3 separate regions of the Homo sapiens genome follow, and all the other regions are linked to region 2. Evidence: fine-mapped expression QTL. A gene starts in region 2. Each other region holds a variant in brackets. All regions are shown on one strand. Distances are between the middles of the regions.

Region 1 (8,274 bases), 110 kb after region 2:
TGCCATTTGCTGCTTCTGGTAACACATCCTACTTTAGTTGCAGCTGCAACCAAAGAGGCCTTTACTTGTCCAAAAAACAGTCTTGTAAATCAGAGACTGAAAAGCCCAGTTATGTTGCTGAGCTGTTTCTCCCCATTCAGAATTGTTTACTTCTATATGTTTTCAAGAGTTTCATCCAAGCGGGAGTTTGAGTTTCAAGGGCAGAGCAGCCACTGTGACCCTTGGAAGACAGTCGCTATTGCACCCTCCCCCAGAGTGTTCTGCATACATATCTCCATCTTCACTTTTAGACAATGCTTTCCGGTCAGACTCTCAGGCTACATTTTCATCTGCTTTTTTGCTTCTCATCTCCTGAGAGTGCTGGGCACTCTGCTGCTCTATTTGCCAAGTCAAAATATAAAGATGGAGCCCCTTTTGTCTTGTTCTTGAGCGTGTCCTCTTAACTGATTTTATTTTCTTCTATAGACTTCCTCTTAGTAATAAGCCCTGACTCAAATCTTTTTTTTTTTTTTTTTGAGATGGAGTCTTACTCTGTTGCCTACGCTGGAGTGCAGTGGTGCGATCTCAGCTCACTGCAACCTCCGCCTCCCAAGTTGAAGAGATTCTCCCTGCCTCAGCTTCCCAAGTAGCTGGGATTATAGGTGCCCGCCACCATGCCCGGCTAATTTTTGTATTTTTTTTTTTTAGTAGTGACAGGGTTTTGCCATGTTGGCCAGGCTGGTCTTGAACTCCTGACCTCAGGTGATCCACCCGCCTCGGCTTCCCAAAGTGCTGGGATTACAGGCTTGAGCTGCTGCTCCCGGCCAAATCTTTTTTTTTTTTTTTTTTTTTTTTAAGCTGGTTTTGTCTCATCTCCTTCTTTCAGTTTGAGGGATTCCCTGCTCTTTCCATCCCGAGAAAGCTCCAGGTAGAAGAGAAACTGTCCGGACAGATTACAAGCCTTAGCATATGCCATTATTTGTTATGTGTGGCTCCTGACCTCAGATGTGCTAGTCCTGACTGTATTCTCAAGAAGAGAAAACTCAGTAGAAATCACTTTGTTTTTGCCCACTGCGTTTTTTCTGAAACAAAATAAAACAGCCTTTCCAATAAAGCATTAAATATGCCAACTAAATATCTAGCTGTTGGTTGCAGTAATTTTCTTTTCATTTCACTGAGAGGGGTAGCGTGAATTTTCTCTAATCGTTAACTCCCCCCAAGGAATGGAGGTTCTCAAAAAGTCCATTTAACACTTTGACACATCATTTTAAAATTCGGCATTGTTCATTCTCTTGGGTCTTATTATACTGACAAAGCTGGAAGCAGTCTACATATTGTCAAACAATGGTGGCAGAGGTGACTGCATGGGTGTTTAACATGATCACTGTTCTTGTGCTAGTAACTCCTTGCCTTGCCCTGTCAAATTTGAGTTTCTTTTCTGTGATTGGTTGTATGTTTGATGGGGCAATGCCAATGAGTTGTTGTGCAGAAATTTTAAAGAAAAGATGTAGCTTAATGTTCCTTTTATCATAGTTTTTATGATTTTAATTTCCATTTTGCTCCAAATTGTTTTTTGTTTAATGTTCATGATTTATTTTCAACTTTTGTTTCATTTTGCCAAGCACTGTGTTATGACTTAGTGATGGCGTTACTCCGTTGGAAAAGTCTTGTTCCTTTTCTGACTCATGATGGCGTCCCTTAACTTGAACGAATCTGTGATGCCCTCGCTTCTTTTCATTCCCTGATGTCGGTGCCTTAATGATGTCACATCCGTGTATGCAGCATCTCCCGGGATGCAAGAGTTTCATGGGTTTTCTAAGGGCCTGTGACGGGTGCTCTTTCTACTGGGTCGATTGTCTCATGAGAATGTGACATTTGTGTGCCCCAGCTTTAGGAGCTAAATATACTCTGGAATTGTTTCTAAAATCCATCACATTTCCTCACTAAGCAGAAAATGTGCCCGCTGACCAGCTCACTGAGGAGTCAAGTGTCCATTGCCCATTTTATTTTGGCCACTGGTAAAAATGCCAGTGAGCAAGGCATGCCCATGGCTCTACTCTGCAGATATGCTGACTGCCAGTGAGCTGGTCCCATTCTTTGTCCACTTCATCCTCCAAACAATTCTCCATTTCCAGAGTATGTTTGCTGCGTTTTTCTTTCTTTTCCTTGCTATGTCTTTCGTCTTGATTTAATCCTGTGCGTCCCTCACATTCTGTCGAAACACCCTTCCTCACCTTGCAGCCTAACCCCCTTCTGCTACCATTGTTCTTAGCCTCCCCCTTTCAAAATAACAGACCCAAACCCTCTGCCCCTCTGTGGAATGTTCCAAGGCTCTTTCCTTCTACACCGTGAGTAGCATTCTGATGCTGTATGTATATACAGTCATACTAACAAAGCGTGAGAAGAGACCTGCACAGCACGCGGAAGCATTATCATAGAAAATGAAGTAATTTTCTCTCTCAGTAACTGGCCTTGCCCTTCATTACCCTACTGGCCTTGTCTAATGTCTCTTGTCCTTGCTGCTTTTCTTTAAAATTGCCTGATATCTTTCAAGCCCTGGATTCATTAGTAAAAACACAGCCAACTGCTCTGTTTTATCTCTGGTTCTCTAGATGTCTGGAGCCTCTAGAGCGAGCCCTTTAATCACCAAGTTGATAAATGAGATGCAGCCCTGACTACTTCTGTCTTGGTTTTGCCACATTAAAAAATACATATTATTTATTCCTCCTATAACTATTGAGGTCGTAATGGGTAGTTACAAAGGGGCTCTAATCACATATAAATAAGAAAGAAAATCCAGTTTATTTTTAGATCTGGCTTATTCTCCACCACCGCTTCCCACAGCAAAAGAAATAAGAGCTTTCTTTTTTAGGTTAAACAATACTGAGAACAAATAGCTATTCTTGTGCCTCTTATTCCTTACCAAAAGTAACAATACTTTAAAGCTGATTTCCAAGAAGTCTATGAGGTATGTAAGGAAATCAGCCACATCCAGAGCAGCCAAGAGAGCTGTGTAGCATACACATAAAATGTAAATGCTGACCACTGCTATGAGGACACAAGAATATATCCTGAATAGAATAAAAATCCCCTACTTCAGACTTTATTTTATAATAAAGAGTTCTTGTGAGCTCTCAGAAAACAGACAAAATAGTAAATATAGAGCAGTTCCCATTTAATCAGAAATGCCAGAGTTGTAGTATGCTTCTATCTTTTGGGAAATCTTTAAAGTGAGATATTATCACATTATTACATTTAGTCCAGAAAATATGCACATTAAAGACAAGAATAAGATGTATTACAGAAACAGAATTTAAATTAGAGATTAAGTGAATAAGCTAAAATGGATAGCAAATGTTGAATATATTTTAATCAATGTACAAGCTATTTGTATAAGCAGTTTTTAGTTTGGGAAATAATATTCCGGTAAGATTCATAAGATCTATAAAGATGATTAGTATTGTCCACATCTCACAATCCTAAATGGAATTTTATAAATCACAGATGTTATCAATAATTCTCTTTATAGTTAATTATTTAATCTTTAAATTTGCAGTAGCCTACAGCAGTATTTCCTCCGAGGGAGATGAGTAGCACCTTACATGGCATGATTTAGGTGGCAGGGATGTGATGGCCTTCAAGAGTATTGAGTCATGTGGTGGAAATTTATGCCCTTTTCAATGCTCTTTCAGTCTTCTGCGTTATCTTCTTGATTATGTGAAAGGAAAAGTCTCAGTTTGGTGTTTTCTCATTAACAACTCCCTAAACTTGCTACTATCTCTTTTTGACAAAGAGAGAATAGGGTTTACACTGGGGCTTTGTCTTCCAACTGGATCTAGCTGGAATTAACATTGTTTTGCTTTAAGTTAATTTTTGTTTTACTGGTTACATTTTAT[C/T]GTTGAAAAGTGACACTTTTTTTTTATTTGTGATAATGATATCAAGTTTCCCTTTGAAATACATTTTAAAGGTAATTTAAATAGAATATTAAGTAAATAATGCAGGAGTTATGAGGGATATAAAAATACTAAGTAAATAATATGGTAGGTGAGATTCATTGTTATGACTAAAATTGTAGTATTGGTAGTTGAATGACCAAAGTTTAGGTGACTGTGTACTGTAGCAATTGAAGGAGTCCAGGGAAGATTAAACTATTACCAAGAACTTTGTTCTGACATTTGGAAGAATGAGGTTTGATGACCACTATACCCTCTCCTGGCTGGGCTTGCAAAACCAAGTGAATACATGCGTCACTCCAAGTGTTGTAATTATACAATCCAGTGCCCTTCTGATTTCTTTGCTACCTACTGAGCTTTGTGTTTGGGGATGGAAAGTTTCATGAAATAGAAATTTAAAGTAACATGGATTTAGACTAATAAGAAATTAGCCACTCTAGGCTTGTTAAGCATCTGGCAAGTTTTTTCTCCACACCAGCAGCAAGCACCCTAGTGTGGTCTGCCGCTAGTTATTACTCAAATTGTAGCCTAGGGAAAGTTGATGAAAAGCCTTTCCACTTTTCATCTATTTTGCTGATATCCAGAAGGACTCTTGTGCTACACAGTGTTGCCCGGCCTGGCAATAGCTTACCCTTGACCCTTCTCCTTTTCTCCCGTTCAAACTTTACCTATTCTAAGTTCCAAGCCTTCAGTGTCAGCTGTCTTTATTAACAGACTGAGAAATCTCATTTTAGGTGAGTATAGTTAATCATAGATCCTACCCCCTGGTTACTCTTACATTTTAACACTCTCCCATGCTTAAAATGTAATGGATTTGGGATTTTAAAGCACCCTGGTTCTCCCAACACAGAAGGTAATTTTTTGGCTCCTATCAAGTCATATGTAAGTGATTTTATGGACAGAGAAAATTATTCCTGATGACAGTAATAAAGGAAGAAAAATAGGCCTCTCCTCTTTTCCTGACTCTTAAACTTGGGCTTAATTTTCTCTGCCATTTCTTCAGTAATATTACCGTTAACAAAAACATTTTCTGAGGTGTCTCAAGCAGAATTTATCACTGGCTCTGTGGTGCAATTTGGATGCCAATAAAGAGTAAGAGGCTGTATTAGAGATAGACGTAGTTCCTGTCCAAGAAATATCAAACACCAGACAGATGGAACACAGGTAGACACAAAAGCACACCAAAAGGCCTTTATGACCAACATTCTCTTTGTGAAATGCCAAAACCACACACCACAGACTTTAAAAAAATATATTAGACAAGTAAAGACAACTTGGCTGAACACATCAAGGACATAGAACTGTGAAACAGTTTTTCAGCTCCTTTCCTTCAGTTCTTTCCCTCAGTACCAATATTGTAGCAATAACACATCACCTGACAAGGAAGACGAGGAAAGTGATGGATGTTTGGTAAAAGACTCATATTTAAAATTTTTGTGGGAGTGTTGGCAAACTCAGGCTTTTATTTTTTTTAAGCCTAAGCTTTATTTCAAGAAAAAAAAAACTCATACTAATTTGCATTCCTTTTATTAGTAAAAATGATCCTATTGCAGTCGTTTTTAAATGTGAGAGTAGAGCAAGGCAGTTTCAAGGAGACTTCAGAAAAAGGGCTCCTGTCTTGGGGAGTACTAATAATGGGAGGGTAAGGGTTTTCACTTCCACTCAACAATGGAAAATTAACTGAGTCAGGTAGAACGTGCATGGTCAGAGGCAAGGAACGCGAAGAGATAGTGAATTGATTGTGACGGTTCCAAAAACTCTTTTGAATTAGAGATCACTTATTTCTGATTTTGAAGGTTAGAGGAAAGGCATCTTCAAAGTTCGTAAGAAATTTGGTACATAAGCTGGTATTGTTGCTGACTATGAAAAATACAGTTCTTAATATTTAGTTCATCAGTATTTTATTTATAAATTGTGCTATACACGACCCATAAAGATTTATCATAATTTTTATTGCTCTAAACTTTTAGAGATTAAAAAGTTTAATTTTTAGAGAGTAAAGATTTAGCATCATTTTTATTACTCTAAACTGCCTGTAATCTCAGCTACTTGGGAAGCTGAGGCAAGGGAATTACTTGAACCAGGGAGGTGGAGGTTGCAGTCAGCCGAGATCGTGCCACTGCATTCCAGCCTGGGTGACAGAGGGAGACTTTGTCTCAAAAAAAAAAAAAAAAAAAAGAGATTAACAATTTTAACCTCTGAAAGTTTGGGTGGGTTTAAAGAATATTTGTGGGAGTCATTTAAAGCACACTGTTTGGGAAAAGAAGAGTAGGGTTGCTAGGCAAAATACAGGATGCTCAGTTTATTTGAATTGCAGATACACCTGAATAATATTTTTAATATTGAAACAAAACTAAATAATTGTTAGTGTAAATATACCGCAAATATTGCATAGGACATACTTTTAACTAAAACATTTTTGTTTATCCGAATTAACTGAGAGTACTTAAACTTTTTGCTACCTGACAATTCTATAGAAGATGTCACTGATAACTTACTCAGTGAATATATAAGATCTAATTTATATATTACATTTGGCCTTTAACTCTTAGAAATCTAGAATAATCCATATTCTGATATGTTTAAGAAAAAATCTTATTCCACGAAAAATATTCTTAGCATACTTGAGTTCAGAGAATGTCTATGAAATATTATATATGTGTTTGAAATGTGATAAAGAGTAATTTAAAGATTATTATTGAAAACAGGCTTTCAAATGCCACTTTCAAGTAAGGAAGGCTCAGAAATCAAATTGTTCTTAAAGAGGAGCATGGTTAAAACTATTGGTTCTTTTATGTTTTACTTAACCTCAAAATTTTAACAGCTGTTATGTTAACCATATGTATTCCTTTTTCCTTCCTAAATTATATGGCTGCCCTCCTTTTTATTTTTATTTTTATTTTTTTATCATTTTCATGGCTTTGGAGGGGTAGAACTGGAATTCCGAAAGCACTAAAAAATAATAGTTTAATAATGCTGACAATCTCATCTCAAAGAAAGGCAAGACAGCAACCTTTCCTTTGTTTCTTTTTTCCTGCATTCAACAGAAATTGAACAAACATGTGCTATATGTAAACCTTATGCTGAGTGTTACAGAAGATACTAATTTGAATTTCACATAAACCTGATATTCAGACAGCTTACAGTTTAGTGAGGGATACCCAAAGGTGATCTAAATGCTGGGGCAGAGTGAAGTCTGACAGTAAGGGAAGTCAAGGAAAGAGGGGGAGGGAGAGTACTAAGGGAGTCTAAGGGGTGGCACAACTAATTCCAAGTGGGGGACACAGGAAAGACCTTTCAAAGTCTTGAAGGAAAAGTTAGATTTCACAGGAGGAAGGGCATTCCAAGCTGAATAAAGTCCATGACCAAGATACCACACTGTGAAATTACAGAGTGTAATAATAAAGAGGCAAGGAGTGTGTGGTGACTAAGTGTATGGACGACTAGAATGGGAAATGAGATTGAAATCCTAGCCTGGAACCTTAAATGCCATGCCAAGGAGTTTTGGCTTTAGCAACAGGAAGTGGAGGATGGGAAGGTAGACGTTGGGAAGAAAGGGACCACAGGAGGGTAGAAGTGGGGAAAGACAAAGATAGCAAGATTGACAGGTGATACATATATAATAAATTGTTCATTTAATCATATTAGGTTATTAATTACATGTACACAATAAGTTTGGGAAATGGAATTTTGCATCAATTTTGGATCTAAAGTGTCTGTTACTACACATCGCTGGCATTTTCCTGGTAGATGCTTCTTGCCTATCTAGCTCTATCCTAGGTAAAACCCCAGGCAAGCTGAACTCCAAACTTGGACTTCTTCCTCTCTTTAGTTAAAACAGTGGGGTTCAGCTGAGCACGGTGGCTTAATTAATAATATAATCCAGGATGCCACTGTTTATTTTTACTATATTAATATTTCTTGGTCACCTACGAGAAAAGGAATCTATATGTAGTCTCCGTCTTTTCTTTGAGGGACTGAGGAAAATGATATTGTGAGCAAGTCAGGTGCTGGGCTCTCAAATGGATGATGTGGGTTTCCATGTTTGAACGTGTGCAGGGGGAGAGGGTCCAGAGCCGAGAAGCCCAAGTGGCAGGCTGTAATTGTTCTTTCAGTAGTGTGGGCATAGATGTAGATTTGATATAATTAATTTTGTATCCTTTTGACAACTTGCTGAATTTATCTAAGGTCTTGATGAGATTATTGTGGAAAGGGTAGCAGGAAAAAAAAAGTTAAATGTCAGCCATGTAGAAAGCTGTTTCATCTCTCTGCCTGCCTGAATTTGCACACCCGTATTTGAGTTTTCTTTTCTAGGGATACCACTAACCTTTTATTTTTTAAC
Region 2 (8,274 bases):
GGCGCGGTGGCTCACGCCTGTAATCCCAGCACTTTGGGAGGCTGAGGCGGGCGGATCACGAGGTCAGGACATCGAGACCATCCTGGCTAACACGGTGAAACCCCATCTCTACTAAAAATACAAAAAAATTAGCCAGGCGTGGTGGCAGGCACCTGTGGTCCCAGCTACTCGGGAGGCTGAGGAGAGAGAATGGCGTGAACCCGGGAAGCGGAGCTTGCAGTGAGCTGAGATTGCGCCACTGCACTCCAGCCTGGGCAACAGAGCAAGACTCCGTCTCAAAAATTGAAAAAAAAAAAAAGAAGAAGAAGGGGAGGGGGAGTTGTTACAGGTAGCTCCCAGCCCTGACCCAATCGCTGACACAGGTCAAGCCACTTCTGTCCGCTGTGCTTCCATGTGACTCCTGTAAAATGTGATGGTAGGACTGATGTGGAGGATGGCAAGGATGACAATGTGACACTTAATCTTTATAAAGCAGTGTCAGCCTTAGACTCCGAATTTACGAAGATCATCTAATGTAATCCACGAGCTCCTCGGGAAGTGAGTAGAATAAGAATCCCCATTTACAGGTGAATCCACTGGGACTTCACAGAGATAAGTGACTTGCCCAAGATCACCAGCTAAGTTACATTAACCGCAGATGGCCTCCAGAGACCAGGGCCTCAAACACTCCATTTTACGTCACTTTAAAAAAAACCACTGAAGTCACCTTCTCATCACTCTGTGATTCTTTAACTCTTTGGCTTTCTTTTCCTGAAGGGACAGGGTATAAATTGCAGACTTCAAAGGCTTTGAAGGGGCAGTGGTTTTACTGAAAACTTACTGCAGGCTTCTGGAAGTGAGTCTGAGGCGCACTTATGGGGAAATGACATCATGAGGTTTCATAGCCTGGCTTCCCCACAGGTGCTCCCCTGGGGGTTTCGGGAGCCTGACAATAGCTGGCTTTTCTTCCAGCTCCGGGAGCATCTTTTCTGGCAGGTGGAAATGTAATATCACGTGGTCAGAAGGAAGGGCTCCTACTTGGATGGTGAGACTAGGATCTAGTAATTGCCAGGAAGATTCTGGGTGGTATTTCTTCACTGTGAAAAGTAGACTCCAATTCTTTAACTCTCGTATTCTATAATTTTAAATTAGGTAAATTTAATCGCTCGCTTCTTGGCTCAGCGTTACTACAAATTAAACATGCAAGTATTAATATTGAATATAATGTCCCTTTAAACAATATCCTGAAACTCGTTGTGGGGCATTTCCAATATATCCATAAAGCAAATAAAACAACTTAATTGTTTGTTTCTCTAAGGGAAGGAGCTAAACCCGAAATTAATTTAGTTCGGCCTGTGAAACAATTCGTTTGCTCTGCCTAATTCTGCCAATTTAAGAACTTTTCCCAGACACAATTAGCATGTAAATCGGCGGCGGGGAGCGAAGAAGGAGCCTCGGCGACCCCGGTTGGGTGGAGCGCGGGACAAAAAACCCCGGAGGCCGAAGGGTCCGGAGCTTCGAAGGGGCTGCAGTACCGCGCCTGGGGCGCACGGACGAGCCAGGGGACCAGCTCACACTGACCCTGCAGTCATCAGCCAAAATCTGGGTGTTAAATAGCGCAGCCGGGGATCCAGCCGTCTTGGCCGCCAGATCCTTCTCCTAACCCCGCGGGATTCTGAGGAGACGTCCTGGAGCCGGCCCCCACCCAACCCGCGGGAAAGCGCAATCCTACCCACCGCCCCACACTCCCCAACCCCCTCCCGAGGCTGGCTCTTGAAGCCGCGGGGGCTGCGCGCGCACCTAGGGCCGCGCCCCCCACTACCCCAGGTCTATAGAGGCCTTTGCCCGAGAAAGGTGGGGATAGCGGCCCCTGCTGACAGCTCTGGAGAACAGCAGGGGTACTGATTTTTTCTTTTTTTCCTACCATTCTCCCTACCTTTTCCAGGTGGTGGTAGTGGTGCGGGGGGAATGGGTGTTGACCCATGTGCATTTATTCTTCGTGAAGCCTCTTAAGCAGATGTCTGTACTTAGAGAAGCGACCAAAGAGGGAACGTGGACTTATTAGTGGTCTTAGTCCCAATTAGGGAACAGGTACAGTTTCCAATATAAAGAAACTCGGCCTAAGTGGGACTGAGACCCCGATCTCCGCACTTGCTTTTCTCAGCCAACTCCATGACTAGTAAATATCTCTCCGAGAACTGCTGGGCCGCCCGATGTTACTTTGTTTAAAGGTTGCGACTAGGATCCGTACCATCTGCGAAGCCCCCTTGGGGAGCAAGAGCCGCGGCGCGCAGTTGATTTCGGGGCGCAGCGGCAGGGGGAGGGGAACGTGGTGTGGCCCGACGAGTTGGCACAAGCCTGTAACTGCAAGACTTTGTAGCTATTGAAAGTTCAAGTGGTGAAAGAAGGCTGTGCCTGCCATTCTTCATGTGATCATAACAATAGCGCCTTGGAAGTGGTTGCGATTTTCTTCTTCCATAAACCTTTTGGGTTCTCACTGGAATTGTATGCGTGTTATTTCTGAAGTTTACTTATTTCTAAGACCAGTCCACAAAATGTGAACTTCATTAAGTTTTAAAATAGATCGCCGTCGTTAAAAACGCCATTCTCTGCACTGTAGTTTATTTGCTTACTTCACATGCTTTATTAACGTGTGTATGTGCGTAATTAATAGCTGTGTTCTTATCTTCCAAGTGTATTTTTAACCGCACCGGCTTCTATCCAATTCATCTAACTACGTAGAGCGTCCATCGCTTCTGGAATCTACCTCTTGATAACAGTAATCAGAATCAGAAAAGCTCGCCGTTCACTTACCCTCATCCTTTAAAACTTTTCCATTTAAGAAAATCGATGAACAAAACCTTTCTTGTAACTCGCTCCTGCACTACGTCTATTTTTATTTATTTTTCTGATTTGGCAGGACTCAGCAATGCTGTCCGGGATTTTTTTTTTCTTTTTTTTTTTCCTAGCTAGAGCAGATGTGGGGGTGGGGGAGGTGAGGGCTGGGCTCCAGCCAGAGTCGCCCCCGCTGAGCCTCCGCCTAGCGCGCGGTGGGGCCAGGAATCCTGGTGGAAGGAAGCGGCGCTGGCCAGTTGGTCCAAGGCTCCACCTGCAGCCACACCGCGTAGTTTCTCCGCCTCTGCCTCGCTCACTCGCACTCACATACACCACAGCTCTCCTTTGGGTCGGAGGAGACGCCAGCCAAAGTAGGCGGAGTTGCGGAAGGAGAGTCCGATCTGCGCAATCCAGTCCGGGACTTGGCTCCGCCCGGGAGCGGCGGCCTCTCCGGTGACAGAGGAGTAGTGAGCGGCACGGGGTGAGGCTGCAGCCAACTCCGCTCCCCGCGCACTCGGCTGCCCAGGCGCTCGGAACCCAGCAGCGGCGCTCCTCCGCGGTGCCGGTCGCCCGCGATGCCCGCTTAGCAGCGTGTAGCAGCGGCCAGCATCACCACACCCGCGGCACCGCGCTGCCGGCCGCAGAGCCGGGCCAGAGCCTTGCACCCCTGCCCCAGCCCCCACCCCGCCCCCCGCCCTGAAATGACTTGTTAATCGGCGCAGACACCACCAAGGGGACTCACCGAAGTGGAATCCAAGTGGAATTTGGATTTGGAGAAGAGTTTCTTGAACATTTACCCTCTTCCTTGTTGGTTTTCTTTTTCTTTTTCTTCTTTTTTTTTTTGGCTTCTTTTTTCCTCTCCCCTTCTCCGCTCGTCATTGGAGATGAACACATCGCGTTTGCATCCCAGAAAGTAGTCGCCGCGACTATTTCCCCCAAAGAGACAAGCACACATGTAGGAATGACAAAGGCTTGCGAAGGAGAGAGCGCAGCCCGCGGCCCGGAGAGATCCCCTCGATAATGGATTACTAAATGGGATACACGCTGTACCAGTTCGCTCCGAGCCCCGGCCGCCTGTCCGTCGATGCACCGAAAAGGTACGCCCCGGGCGCCCGGGCGCGCCCCACCTCCCGGGCAGCTGGACTCCAGCCTGAGGGTCCCGGGGCCGTGGCTAGCGCGTGCTGTCGGCTTTGTGGTGCCTGCGTTTTATTTTGTCTTGTGTCTCTGTTTCCCGAGCCTTGCCCGGTCCTGGGGGAGCAGCCGTGAGCCCTGCCTGCCTTTCCTCTCTGCCCTGCGCCCCAGAGTGCGTCCGGCTCCACGTCGAGAGCTTTCCCACCCGCGTTGCGCACACGCCCGGCGCCGCCCCGGGCCGCGACGGCGCGTATGGCTGTTCCTCCTGGGGGTGTGTGTGCGAGACCCAAGGCTCATCCTCCCGCGTGCCCAGCAGGGAGCAGAGCGGGCCCTAAATGGTGGGATTCTCGGAAGCTCCCTGGCCCGGTGTGTCGAAGGCAGGGGAAGGGGTTCTGCCCTCGAGGGCTGGAGGGGGTTGGGTATAACAGCGCTGTTTTCGTCCAGTGCCAGGTGGGAGAAGGGGTTCCGCGGAGACGGTGTGGAAGCGGAGAGAATCTTTTGTTGTCAGTGTGGGGTCTGGGCTGGGCTCCGTGGAGTGCAAGAAACTTGTAATGGCTCTAGGCACCCGCGCGCCCTGTCTCTCGGTGAGATCCTGGCTCCTGTGGCCGCTGCCACCAGAGGTTCCGGGCTTTGTTTGCTCGAATAAGTGTCCGGGAGCAGCCGTTCGGGTGACGCGGCGCCCCCGCCATGGGTCCTGTCCCCCGCCGCAGCTCCCAACCCGAGCGGCAAGGATATAGCCCGTCGCGGCTGCGTCCCTCCTGAAGCACCGAGCCCTTTGCACCGGGCTGGCGCACGGTACGCCCTCCTCCCAGATCAGCGCGGTCTCGCTCTGGAAAGATGACCCAGGAGGGGGAAGGGTGAGAGACCTGGCAGAAGATGGCCCTGGGTTTGAAACCCAGACTAGGGCTCTGTTCCGACTCCTCACTGTGTCCTAGGGCGCTACCATGGGGGCAATGGGGCGCTGGAGAGTAAGCCGGGCAGTGCCCACCCACCCTGCCTGATCCTTCTGGGGCGGGAAGTGTCTCTTGTCCCGATTCTCCGCGTTTTGCTCAGCTCCTCGCTGTGGGAGATGGTGCAAAACAGGATCCTGAGGTCTCCTCCCTCCTCGCAAGACCCGAGCGGCACGGGGGGAGCCAGGGAGCGGTCCCGGGCTTGTGGACGTCGGGAAAGGAAACAGAATTCCGCTGTTTTTCCCGCTCCCTCGCCGCCCCTCCGCCCAGCGCCTCCTCCCACTTTACAGCGGCGGGGTCACTAGACCAGGCGCTCCTGGAAAGTTTCCCTGAAAGCCAGGGGCGGCAGGCACGACCGGACTGGGGCTCAGCATGTGCAGTCTGAGGGAAGCCGGACCTGGAGGGAATCATGCGGACAGCTCGGGATGCAGCTAGGAGCTAGATCCCGGCCCTTTGGAGAGTGGAACCTCCTGGCCCGCGGTACTTGCTCGACAAGTCGGGGAAGGGATGAATGGGGAAGCAGGACCCCGGAGGCAGGTGCGGCCACTGTGGACAGAGGCTGTGGGGAAGGTGCGTGTGGACACAGGCCGGGGCTCAGTGGCTTGCAAGTAGGCAGCTTCAGGTGCAGAATCCCGAGCCATCTGCTCCCTGCGCACGATTTCCCAGCGTGGCTATCCAGGGAGGGAGGAAGCAGAGCCAGGTGTGCGTGGAGCGGGAGAGGAATGGGAGACTGGAGGCGCTGTCTTCACAGCCGGGGCAAGCACTTCCAGGGAGTCTCCGGCCTGTATCGCACTGGGGAGCCCTGCAGGCTTTTTCGCGTCGGTCTTTGGGAGAAAGGTGGCTGCTTTGGAACTGCGGTGGCCAGGCACAGCCACAGTGGGATCGCTCCTTTTTTTACGCTCAGCTTTTTTACGCTACTGAATGCGATCTGTGAAAGGTTTAAAACACAGGCGTGCATGGACACACACACGCACACACTCGCCCTTGTACGCACAACTTTCTTTACCTCAGATCTGAAAAGCCGTTTAACCCACTTGCAGTGTTGTGCCAGCAGGTCTCAGAAAAGCTATTTAATGCCCCCCAGCGCTGGTTTTTAAGTCTTGCCAGGATGGGAAGGTCGAGTGCCTTTGCCTTGTCTTTCTTTAGTCCTGAAATTGTTCGTCGTCCTTCCCCTGGTGGACACATCTTGGGCATCAAGTCTGTGGTATGCTACAGTGATGGCGGGGAGGACTGGTGGTTTAATTAATTATTTAATTATGTTTTCTCCCCAAAGTAAAGATGCCTATGTTTAATTCTGACTAAAAATACTCTACACTTTTTTATACCGTACCCAAATGGCTACCAGCGGTCAAGATTGCAAGAATTTTGTATGACTTTTTAATGCTGTGTTTAGTCTACATGGAGCAGTTTTATGATTTACAGTAAGCTTTGATTAAACTACTCCAGGCACCAAAGTTAATTATTAACCTAACCTTAAATACAGTGGCAGAACTATGTCTCCACCTATTAACCTAAACTATCTATTAAAAAATAATTGCACTAGCTATTTGAATTTGGTTTACCCATGCTTGTTTGTATGGTAACTTTTATTTGAATCTTGAGTAACCCTTACTCCCTGTTATTATTTTGGTTTTGGGACGTTCTTGAATGAGGCACTTTGCAAACCAGTTTAAAGCAGAAAAGAACGAACATCAAATTTAAAATCTTACTTTTGGTTATGAGTCATTTTTCAACTTGATGTAAAGAAGCATTCTACTTTATGTTTCTGATGTACAGTGTTTGTGGGTGACAACCTTCCCCATATGTTAGGTTTTGCAGCTATCACCTTTTAGAGATGTGCTACATTTTCAATAACGCATATAATCCACATATGTAAATGTTAAGCAGATACCGAAAATCATTTCTGAGGAGCCATCAGCTGAATATACTTATTGGACATAACAACTAAGCTTAAATAGGTAAAAATTTTATAAGAACCAGTATAGAACACTCAAGTAAATGTCGAATGAATGAAATAAATAGTCACACATGGTTCATGTTTGTCCACTTAAAGTGGACTTCTTTATTTTCCCTACAGTGAAAAAAAAAATATATGCCTTCAAGTGAGTGGTTATGATAAGGCGGCAATAAGTGCACCTTTTTATTTACACACAACACACACCCCTCAAGTTCTTCCAAAATCTAGTAAATGCTTTTTCCAACATTAAACACATATAGCAGTTGTATTTTGAGTAGGCGGGTAACATTGCACTAGTGAAGTCTAATGTGTTGAATCAGAAGTGTAGCAAGAATTAGGAAGACTGTTATCTTCACCAAATAAAAATGAGGCATCCAAATTAAGAACTTGTATTAAATTCAAAATAAGTAGTTATGCTTTAAAAGTAAATGGGTAGTTGCACTCCTATATGAAATGGAAGGAAAAATACTATTTTGAACCAGGAGTTAAGTCAGATAGTTTATTCTGTGTACATTGTGGTTCAGCGCTTTTCAGAACAGGACAAAAGAGTGATGATGGGATGAAAGTTTTTTTAGAACTAGATTGCCAAGAGCTAATATAGTCTCTCCATCTTATTTGTTTGCAGGAAGGAATCACAGAACAAGCTAAGCTAATTGCAAATGCTTTAATTAAGCATCTGCCATTTGTGTAAGGCAATGCCTAGGAAAGCCTATCTCTGCACTGCCCCTCTCCACACCCTTCTTTAGGTTTAGACAATTTTCTGTCCTCCTAGAGTAGAGGAGTGCTCCTTGACATATTTATATAGAAGCTTTGTGTTATGGCAGCCACATTTGTGCATGTTGAGGAAGGTGATGCCTTGAGGCGTTCTGCTGGGCCCTCCCATATCAGGAACCCCCCCCACTCTCTTGGGGTGCCTTGGAGCCAAGTTTTCTCTGAGATATTTCTATTTCAGCGTGAAGGCTTTTCTCATCTGCTTTAAAATGTGCTGCAAGAGCAACTGAGCTATTCTCTGCTGGCGACCACATGGTTGCCTCTTGGGGATATGGTAAGATAGAGAAAGGAGGGAGGCATTTAATCCCTTCGAAATGGGCAAATGAGATGTCATACCACACAAACCTCAAGGGGAGGAGTTCAGGACAACTTCTCACCATGGGACTACTGCATATAGTCTATACACAAGGGTATCTTGCTTTGTGAAACAGATGAGCTCTTGCAAAACTTTATTACAATAATTCCATTTACACCAATAGAGGGTATCATATAAAACCATAATACACAGATGATTCCCAAATAACCTCTTCAGCTTAGACCTCTCTCCTGGACCTCACAAATAACCAATGCTTAGTGGGTAGGTAGCTCCTCCTGAATAGACATCTCAAACTTAGGTTTAAAAAACCTAATTCTGTATCTTTCTCCCCCATA
Region 3 (8,000 bases), 400 kb after region 2:
CATAACTTTTGGAATGACTTCAGATCATAGCTGAAGAGGTAAAAATTAAAAGCTACCAAAAGTGAATGGCAAACACTAAGTACTTCATTATAGAGGATGAAATAGTCTTTTTTAAAAAAAGCTATTCATAATGTGATGGCTGAAAATAAAATCTAGCTCTTTGTAAGTATATTCATACTAACTGTATAAATTAAGTTGCATGATCCAGTTCACCAAAATAACATAGAAAGTAAAATGTTAAAAATCAGGAAATTCCAAAGTTTACACTTCTACTCTAATACTAACTTGCTTAAATTGGCTTATATAACACTTTAAAGGTGTATATATAACTGGAAAATTGAATATAACTAAACTCATAGAAATAACGCTGATATATCACTGCTAGAGGAAGTATAACTTAGGAATTTCCTGATTTCCAAGAACTGCTGTTTAATGCCAAGGCATTCATACAATTTTTTTCATTTGTAAACTACTTCAAAAATGGAATAAATATGAAACAACAGGCAGCTGTTAGATGAATTAAGATTATATGACTTTACCTTAACCTTAGTATTTACTACCTAAACATTTTCATTATATATTAAAAGATAATATACAAACAGAAAAAAGGGTTATATGTGTTAATTTACATTATTATGAATCTCAGTATTCTAATACTGCCATTATTTTAAGCAGTTTAAATTTTATAAACTTTACATGAGCAAAAGTTAAAGATCTGATTGTGTTACATAAAATTATTAAAGACATCCTCTCATATTGTCAATTCTTGTATTAGTCAAATTTTTGCAAGAACACTGAAATTTCATCGTATTTTTTGTAATTAAAAAGCATGAAGAATTCAAGCTCCAAAATCTTACTATCTCAGATGAGGAAAGGTTAGTAATATTTTAATTTTAACCCACATCTATGCACAGCCAGGATTCAGAAGCCCTGTGCTGCTCTTCTCCATGCCTCTTAGCCTGGTTCAGGGCTGTTGCTCTAAAAGATACCCTGGAGTATGACTTTATAACACAAAACACTGTGAGTAAATCTTTTCGAATAGGAACTCAGTTCTGTTTTCTAAAGTATCAGACTAAAACTCTGTAGGACTGAAGAAAAAACACTTAAATATTTCCGACCTAGGGTAGATAACAGAAAGCAATAGTCTGAGCAAATGCTCCAGATTTCAGGGAGCTCCTATGATTTTGTAGAATCAAAAAGCCAAAGGTAACTTGTAATTCAGGGTAGCACATTTAGAGACAAAGAGGCAGCATCCATATTCCTACAAAACACAATTAGTATCATCATAGTATTTTTCTTCATATAATCACTCGCTCCCTCTGTCTGAGTACTCCTTCCCTCCTATTTATCCCTGAAGCAGTGTAAATAGCTTTCCCACACCTTTAATAATCCAAAGCTTTTCTTTACTTTCCTCTCACACCTCCCTCCAGCCTTACATATTAAATAAAATCTTGCCATAAAAATAGCAGCTGGTAAGCCAATATGGGATGTTTCCTTAACATTCTACACAGTTTACCATATGTACTATAATAAAGTTGCTGGGCTGAAAGATATATTTTTCCAGCCTTTGGTTATTCTTCTGTAAGCTCTGGACATACCACTAAGCAAAATCTTATTTTGGACATCAACCACCAGAAACTGAGTTTAAATATGATAATTCACAAAACAACGGACAGATTTTTTTATTATAATTTAAGTTCTAGGATACATGTGCAGAACATGCAGATTTGTTACATAGGTATACACGTGCCATGGTGGTTTGTTGCACCATCAACCCGTCATCTACATTAGGTATTTCTCCTAATGTTATCCCTCCCCTAGCCCCACACCCGTGACAGGCCCCAGTGTGTGATGTTCCCCTCCCTGTGTCCATGTGTTCTCACTGTTCAACTCCCCCTTATGAGTGAGAGCATGCAGTCTTTGGTTTTCTGTTCCTGTGTTACTTTGCTCAGAATGATGGTTTCCAGCTTCATCCATGATGCTGCAAAGGACATAAACTCACCCTTTTTTATGGCTGAATAGTATTCCATGGTGTATATGTGCCACATTTTCTTTATCCAGTATATCATTGATGGGCATTTGGGTTGGTTCCAAGTCTTTGCTATTGTAAATTGTGCTGCAATAAACATACACGTGCATGTGTCTTTATAGTAGAATGATTTATAATCATCTGGGTATATACCCAGTAAGGGGATTGCTGTATCAAATGGTATTTCTGGTTCTAGATCCCTGAGGAATCGCCACACTGTCTTCCACAATGGTTGAACTAATTTACACTCCCACCAACAGTGTAAAAGCATTTCTATTTCTCCACACCCTCTCCAGCATCTGGTGTTTCCTGACTTTTTAATGATCGCCATTCCAACTGGCGTGAGATGGTATCTCATTGTGATGTTGATTTGCATTTCTCTAATGACCACTGATGATGAGCTTTTTTTCGTATGTCTGCTGGCTGCATAAATGTCTTCTTTTAAGAAGTGTCTGTTCCTATCCTTTGCCCATTTTTTGATGCAGTTTTCTTCATGTAAATTTATTTAAGTTATTTGTAGATTCTGGATATTAGACCTTTCTCAGATGGACAGATTGCAAAATTTTTCTCATTCTGTAGCTAGTCTTTTCACTCTGATGATAGTTTCTTTTGCTGTGCAGAAGCTCTTTAGTTTAATTAGATCCCATTTGTCAATTTTGGCCTTTGTTGCCATTGCTTTTGGTGTTTTAGCCATGAAATCTTGGCCCATGCCTATGTCTTGAATGGCATTGCCAAGATTTTTTCCTAGGGTTTTTATGGTTTTAGGTCTTATGTTTAAGTCTTTAATCCATCTTGAGTTAATTTTTATATAAGGTGTAAGGAAGGGGTCCAGTTTCAGTTTTCTGCACATGGCTAGCCAGTTTTCCTAACATAATTTATTAAATAGAATACCCTTTCCCCATTCCTTGTTTTTGTCAGGTTTGTCAAAGATCAGATGGTTGTAGATGTGTGGCATTATTTCTGAGGCCTCTGTTCTGTTCCACTGGTATATATATCTGTTTTGGTACCAGTACCATGCTGTTTTGGTTACTGTAGCCTTGTAGTATAGTTTTAAGTTAGGTAGTGTGATGCCTCCAGCTTTGTTCTTTTTGCTTAGGATTGTCTTGGCTATACGGGTTCTTTTTTGGTTCCACATGAAATTTAAAGTAGTTTCCTCTAATTCTGTGAAGAAGTTCAATGGTAGCTTGATGGGGATGGCACTGAATCTACAAATTACTTTGGGCAGTATTTTCATTTTCACGATATTGATTCTTCCTATGCATGAGCATAGAATGTTTTTCATTTGTTTCTGTCCTCTCATTTCCTTGAGAAGTTGTTTGCAGTTCCCCTTGAAGAGGTCTTTCACATCCCTTGTAAGTTGTATTTCTAGATATTTTGTTCTCTCTGTAGCAATTGTGAATGGGAGTTTGCTCATGATTTGGCTCTCAGTTTGTCTATTATTGGTGTATAGGAATGCTTGTGATTTGTGCACACTGATTTTGTATCCTGAGACTTTGCTGAAGTTGCTTATCAGCTTAAGGAGATTTTGGGCTGAGACAATGTGGTTTCTAAATATACAATCATGTCATCTGCAAAAAGAGACAATTTTACTTCCTCTCTTCCTATTTGAATACCCTTTATTTTTTTCTCTTCCCTGATTGCCCTGGCCAGGGCTTCCCATACTATGATGAATAGGGGTGGTGAGAGAGGGCATCGCTGTCTTCTGCCGGTTTTCAAAGAAAATACTTCCAGCTTTTGCCCATTCAGTATGATATTGGCTGTGGGTATGTCATAAATAGCTCTTATTATTTTGAGATACGTCCCATCAGTACCTAGTTTATTGAGTGTTTTTAGCATGAAGAGGTGCTGAATTTTATCGAAGGCCTTTTCTACATCTATTGAGATAATAATGTGGTTTTTGTCATTGGTTCTGTTTACGCAATGGATCACGTTTATTCATTTGCATATGTTGAACCAGCCTTGCATCCCAGGGATGAAGCTGACTTGATCATGGTGGATAAGCTATTTGATATGCTGCTGGATTCAGTTTGCCAGTATTTTATTGGGATTTTC[A/G]CATCAATGTTCATCAGGGATGTTGGCCTGACATTTTCTTTTTTTGTTGTGTCTCTGCCAGGTTTTGGTATCAGGATAATGCTGGCCTCTTAAATGAATTAGGGAGGAGTCCCTCTTTTTCTATTGTTCAGAATAGTTTCCGAAGGAAACTCCTCTTTGTATCTCTGGTAGAATTCAGCTATGAATCTGTGTGGTCCTGGGCTTTTTTTTGGTTGGTAGCCCATTAATTATTGACTCAATTTCAGAACTTGTTATTGGTCTATTCAGAGATTCATCTTATTCCTGGTTTAGTCTTGGGAGGTGTATGTGTACAGGAATGTATCCATTTCTTCCAGATTTTCTAGTTTATTTGTATAGAGGTGTTTATAGTATTCTCTGATGGTAGTTTGTATTTCTGTGGGATCAGTGGTGATATCCCCTTTATCATTTTTTATTGTGTCTATTTAATTCTTCTCTCTTTTCTTCTTTATTAGTGTGGCTAGAGGTCTATTTTGTTAATTCTTTTCAGAAAAACAGCTCCTGGATTCATTGATTTTTTTTTGAATGAATTTATTTTTTGAATTGGTTTTTCATGTCTCTATCTCCTTTCGTTCTACTCTGATCTTAGTTATTTCTTGTCTTCTGCTAGCTTTTGAATTTGTTTGCTCCTGCTTCTCTGGTTCTTTTAACTGTGATGGTAAGGTGTCAATTTTAGATCTTTCCCGCTTTCTCCTGTGGGCAGTTAGTGCTATAAATTTCCCTCTACACACTGCTTTAGCTGTGTCCCAGAGATTCTGGTACATTGTGTCTTTGTTCTCATTGGTTTCAAAGAACTTTTTATTTCTGCCTTCATTTCGTTATTTACCCAGTAGTCATTCAGCAGCAGGTTGTTCAGTTTCCATGTATTTGTGTGGTTTTGAGTGAGTTTCTTAATCTTGAGTTCTAATTTGATTGCACTGTGGTCTGAGAGTCTGTTATGATTTCCATTCTTTTGCATTTGCTGAGGACTGTTTTACTTCCAATTATGTGGTCAATTTTAGAATAAGTGCGGGATGCAGTGCTGAGAAGAATATATACTCTGTTGATTGGGGTGGAGAGTTCTGTAGATGTCTATTAGGTCTGCTTGGTCCAGCGCTGAGTTCAAGTCCTAAGTATCCTTATTAATTTTTTGTCCCATTGATCTAATATCGAAAGTGTGGTGTTAAAGTCTCCCACTATTATTGTGTGTGAGTCTAAGTCTCTTCATAGGTCTCTAAGAACTTGCTTTATGAATCTGGGTGCTCCTGTATTGCGTGCATATATATTTAAGAAAGTTAGCTCTTCTTGTTGCACTGATCCCTTTATCATTATGTAATGCCCTTCTTTGTCTTTTTTGATCTTTGTTGCTTTAAAGTCTGTTTTATCTGACACTAGGACTGCAATCCCTTTTTTTTTTTTTTTTGCTTTCCATTTTCTTTGTAAATATTCCTCCATCCATTTGTTTTGAGCCTATGTGTGTCTTTGCACACGAGATGGGTCTCCTGAATACAGCACACCAATGGGTCTTGACTCTATCCAATTTACCAGTGTGTGTCTTTTAATTGGGGCATTTAGTCCATTTACATTTAAGTTTAATTATTGTTTCATGTGAATTTGATCCTGTTATTATGACAGTAGCTGGTTATTTTGCCTGTTAGTTGATGCAGTTTCTTCATAGTGTCGATGGTCTTTACAATTTTGTATGTTTTTGCAGTGGCTGGTACCAGTTTTTCCTTTCCATATTTAGTGTTTCCTTCAGGAGCTCTTGTAAGGCAGCCCTGGTGGTAACAAAATCCCTTAGTATCTGGTTGTCTGTAAAGGATTTTATTTCTCCTTCACTTATGGAATTTAGCTAGGTTGGATAGGAAATTCTGGGTTGAAAATTCTTTTCTTTAAGAGTGTTGAATATTGGCCCCCACTCTCTTCTGGCTTGTAGGGTTTCTGCCGAGAGATCCGCTGTTAGTCTGATGGGCTTCCCTGACCTGTCTCTCTGGCTGCCCTTAACATTTTTTCCGTCATGTCCACCTTGGTGAATCTGATGATTATGTGTCTTGGGGTTGCTCTTCTCGAGGAGTATCTTTGTGGTGTTCTCTGTATTTCCTGAATTTGAATGTTGTCCTGTCTTGCTAGGTTGGGGAAGTCCTTCTGGATAACATCCTGAAGAGTGTTTTCCAACTTGGTTCCATTCTCCCCATCACTTTCAGGTACACCAATCAAACACAGGTTTGGTCTTTTCACATAGTCCCATATTTCCTGGAGGCTTTGTTCATTCCTTTTCATTCTTTTTTCTCTATTCTTGCCTTCATGCTTTACTTCATTAAGTTGATATTCAATCTGATATCCTTACTTCTGCTTGATTCAGCTATTGACACTTGTGTAGGCTGCATGAAGTTCTTGTGCTGTGTTTTTCAGCTCCATCAGCTCATTTATGTTCTTCTCTAAACTGGTTATTTTAATTAGCAATTCCTGCAACCTTTTTTCAAGGTTCTTAGCTTCCCTGCATTGGATTAGAACATGCTCCTTTAGCTCGGAGAAGTTTGTTATAACCCATTTTCTGAAGCCCACTTCTGTCAATTCGTCAAACTCATTCTCCAACCAGTTATGTTCCCTTGCTGGTGAGGAACTGTGATCCTTTGGAGGAGAATGGGCATTCTGGTTTAGGGAATTTTCAGCCTTTCTGCATTGGTTTTTTTCCTCATCTTCATGGATTTATCTACCTTTGGTCTTTGATGTTGGTGACCTTCGGATGGGGTTTTTGTGTGGATGTCCGTTTTGTTGATGTTGATTCTATTCCTTTCTCTGTTTGTTAGTTTTCTTTCTAACAGTCAGGCCCCTCTGCTGCAAGTCTGCTGGAGTTTGCTGGAGGTCCACTCCAGACCCTGTTTGCCTGGGTATCACCAGAGGAGGCTGCAAAACAGCAAAGATTGCTGCCTGTTCCTTCCTCTGGAAGTTTCGTCTCAGAGGAGCACCCGCCAGATGTCAGCTGGAGCTCTCCTGTATGAGATGCCTGTCAACCCCTGCTGGGAGGTGTCACCCCATCAGGAGGCACGGGGGCCGGGGACCCACTTGAGGAGGCAGTCTGTCCCTTAACAGAGCTTGAGGGCTAAACGCACAGCATTTCAATTTATTAGATGGTACAATTTATTTCAATGCATTACATGGTGCAAATAAAACTTGCCAGAACTTCCCCTAGAGTGCTTGTCTATGGAGAATTCCAATTATCCTGAAAAAAATGGGTATGTCTGGCTACTTAGAGTCTTATACTTGTAATTAGAAGATCTGGATTCAAGTCCTTAAGCTCTACAAATAATAGAAAAAGGAACATTGTACATTTTTATAAAAAACAATCTTTGCATCTTATGGTTCAAAATATATTTTCCCTTAAATTATGACCAGTAACAACTCTGAGGAACAACTATCGCCATTTGACAGAGAAATGGACTCAAGTCCATGTGCCAAGGACTAAAACTATAGAAATATTTAAACATGCAAGCTCTTTCGGCCATAGAATGTCTAGGTATGCCACAAGCAATACAGGATAGTTGAGGATGACACTCTTAGTGAGTCTGCCACCATAGCTGACCCACCTCAATTCATGTTACCAAATGTGATTTGACTAAAAAAGGGTAAGATGAACCACCCTCTCAGGGGCAGATAAAGGGTAATCAAGTATTATTAACTGAATTCTTGTATACCCCAAAATTCATGTTATAGCCCTAAACAGCAGTGTAGTTGCATTTGGAGATGGGGCCTCTAAGGAAGTATTTAAGGTTAAATTAGGTCACAAGGGTACAGCACTGATCTGTTAGGATGAGTGCCTTTATAAGAAGAGACACCATCTCTCTGAAGACTAGATTAGAAAATAACAAGGTAAGAAAAAAGAAAAAGAAACAATAAGAGACACCAGAGAGCTCACTCTCTA

Direction of the effects. Positions count from the first base shown, and alleles are read on the strand shown. Sizes are in standard deviations (SD) of each study's normalised expression.
As copies of C replace T in region 1, the expression in testis of the gene that starts at base 3,273 in region 2 goes up (moderate effect, 0.49 SD a copy in GTEx).
As copies of G replace A in region 3, the expression in fibroblasts of the gene that starts at base 3,273 in region 2 goes up (small effect, 0.26 SD a copy in GTEx).

Evidence for each region. PIP is the estimated chance that this variant, and not a neighbour inherited with it, causes the effect.
Region 1: its variant is fine-mapped to the expression of SEMA6A in testis (GTEx, PIP 0.92).
Region 3: its variant is fine-mapped to the expression of SEMA6A in fibroblasts (GTEx, PIP 0.95).

What each region holds. Positions count from the first base shown.
Region 1 is chr5:116,458,620-116,466,893 of GRCh38, reverse strand. The region is part of intron 18 of SEMA6A (semaphorin 6A); the gene reads left to right. The region is part of intron 2 of SEMA6A-AS1 (SEMA6A antisense RNA 1); the gene reads right to left. Among named protein-coding and RNA genes, the nearest start is that of SEMA6A-AS1, 15 kb to the right of the region's middle. The variant C/T (reference allele first, on the strand shown) is at 3,876.
Region 2 is chr5:116,569,822-116,578,095 of GRCh38, reverse strand. SEMA6A (semaphorin 6A) reads left to right here and starts at 3,273. Exons shown (of 19, transcript NM_020796.5): 1 at 3,273-3,911. SEMA6A-AS2 (SEMA6A antisense RNA 2) reads right to left here and starts at 3,678. Exons shown (of 3, transcript NR_147170.1): 1 at 3,557-3,678. RefSeq lists enhancers at 1-577, 5,215-5,996 and a silencer at 3,438-3,517.
Region 3 is chr5:116,165,660-116,173,659 of GRCh38, reverse strand. All of the region lies in intron 5 of COMMD10 (COMM domain containing 10), which reads right to left. Among named protein-coding and RNA genes, the nearest start is that of COMMD10, 85 kb to the right of the region's middle. The variant A/G (reference allele first, on the strand shown) is at 4,082.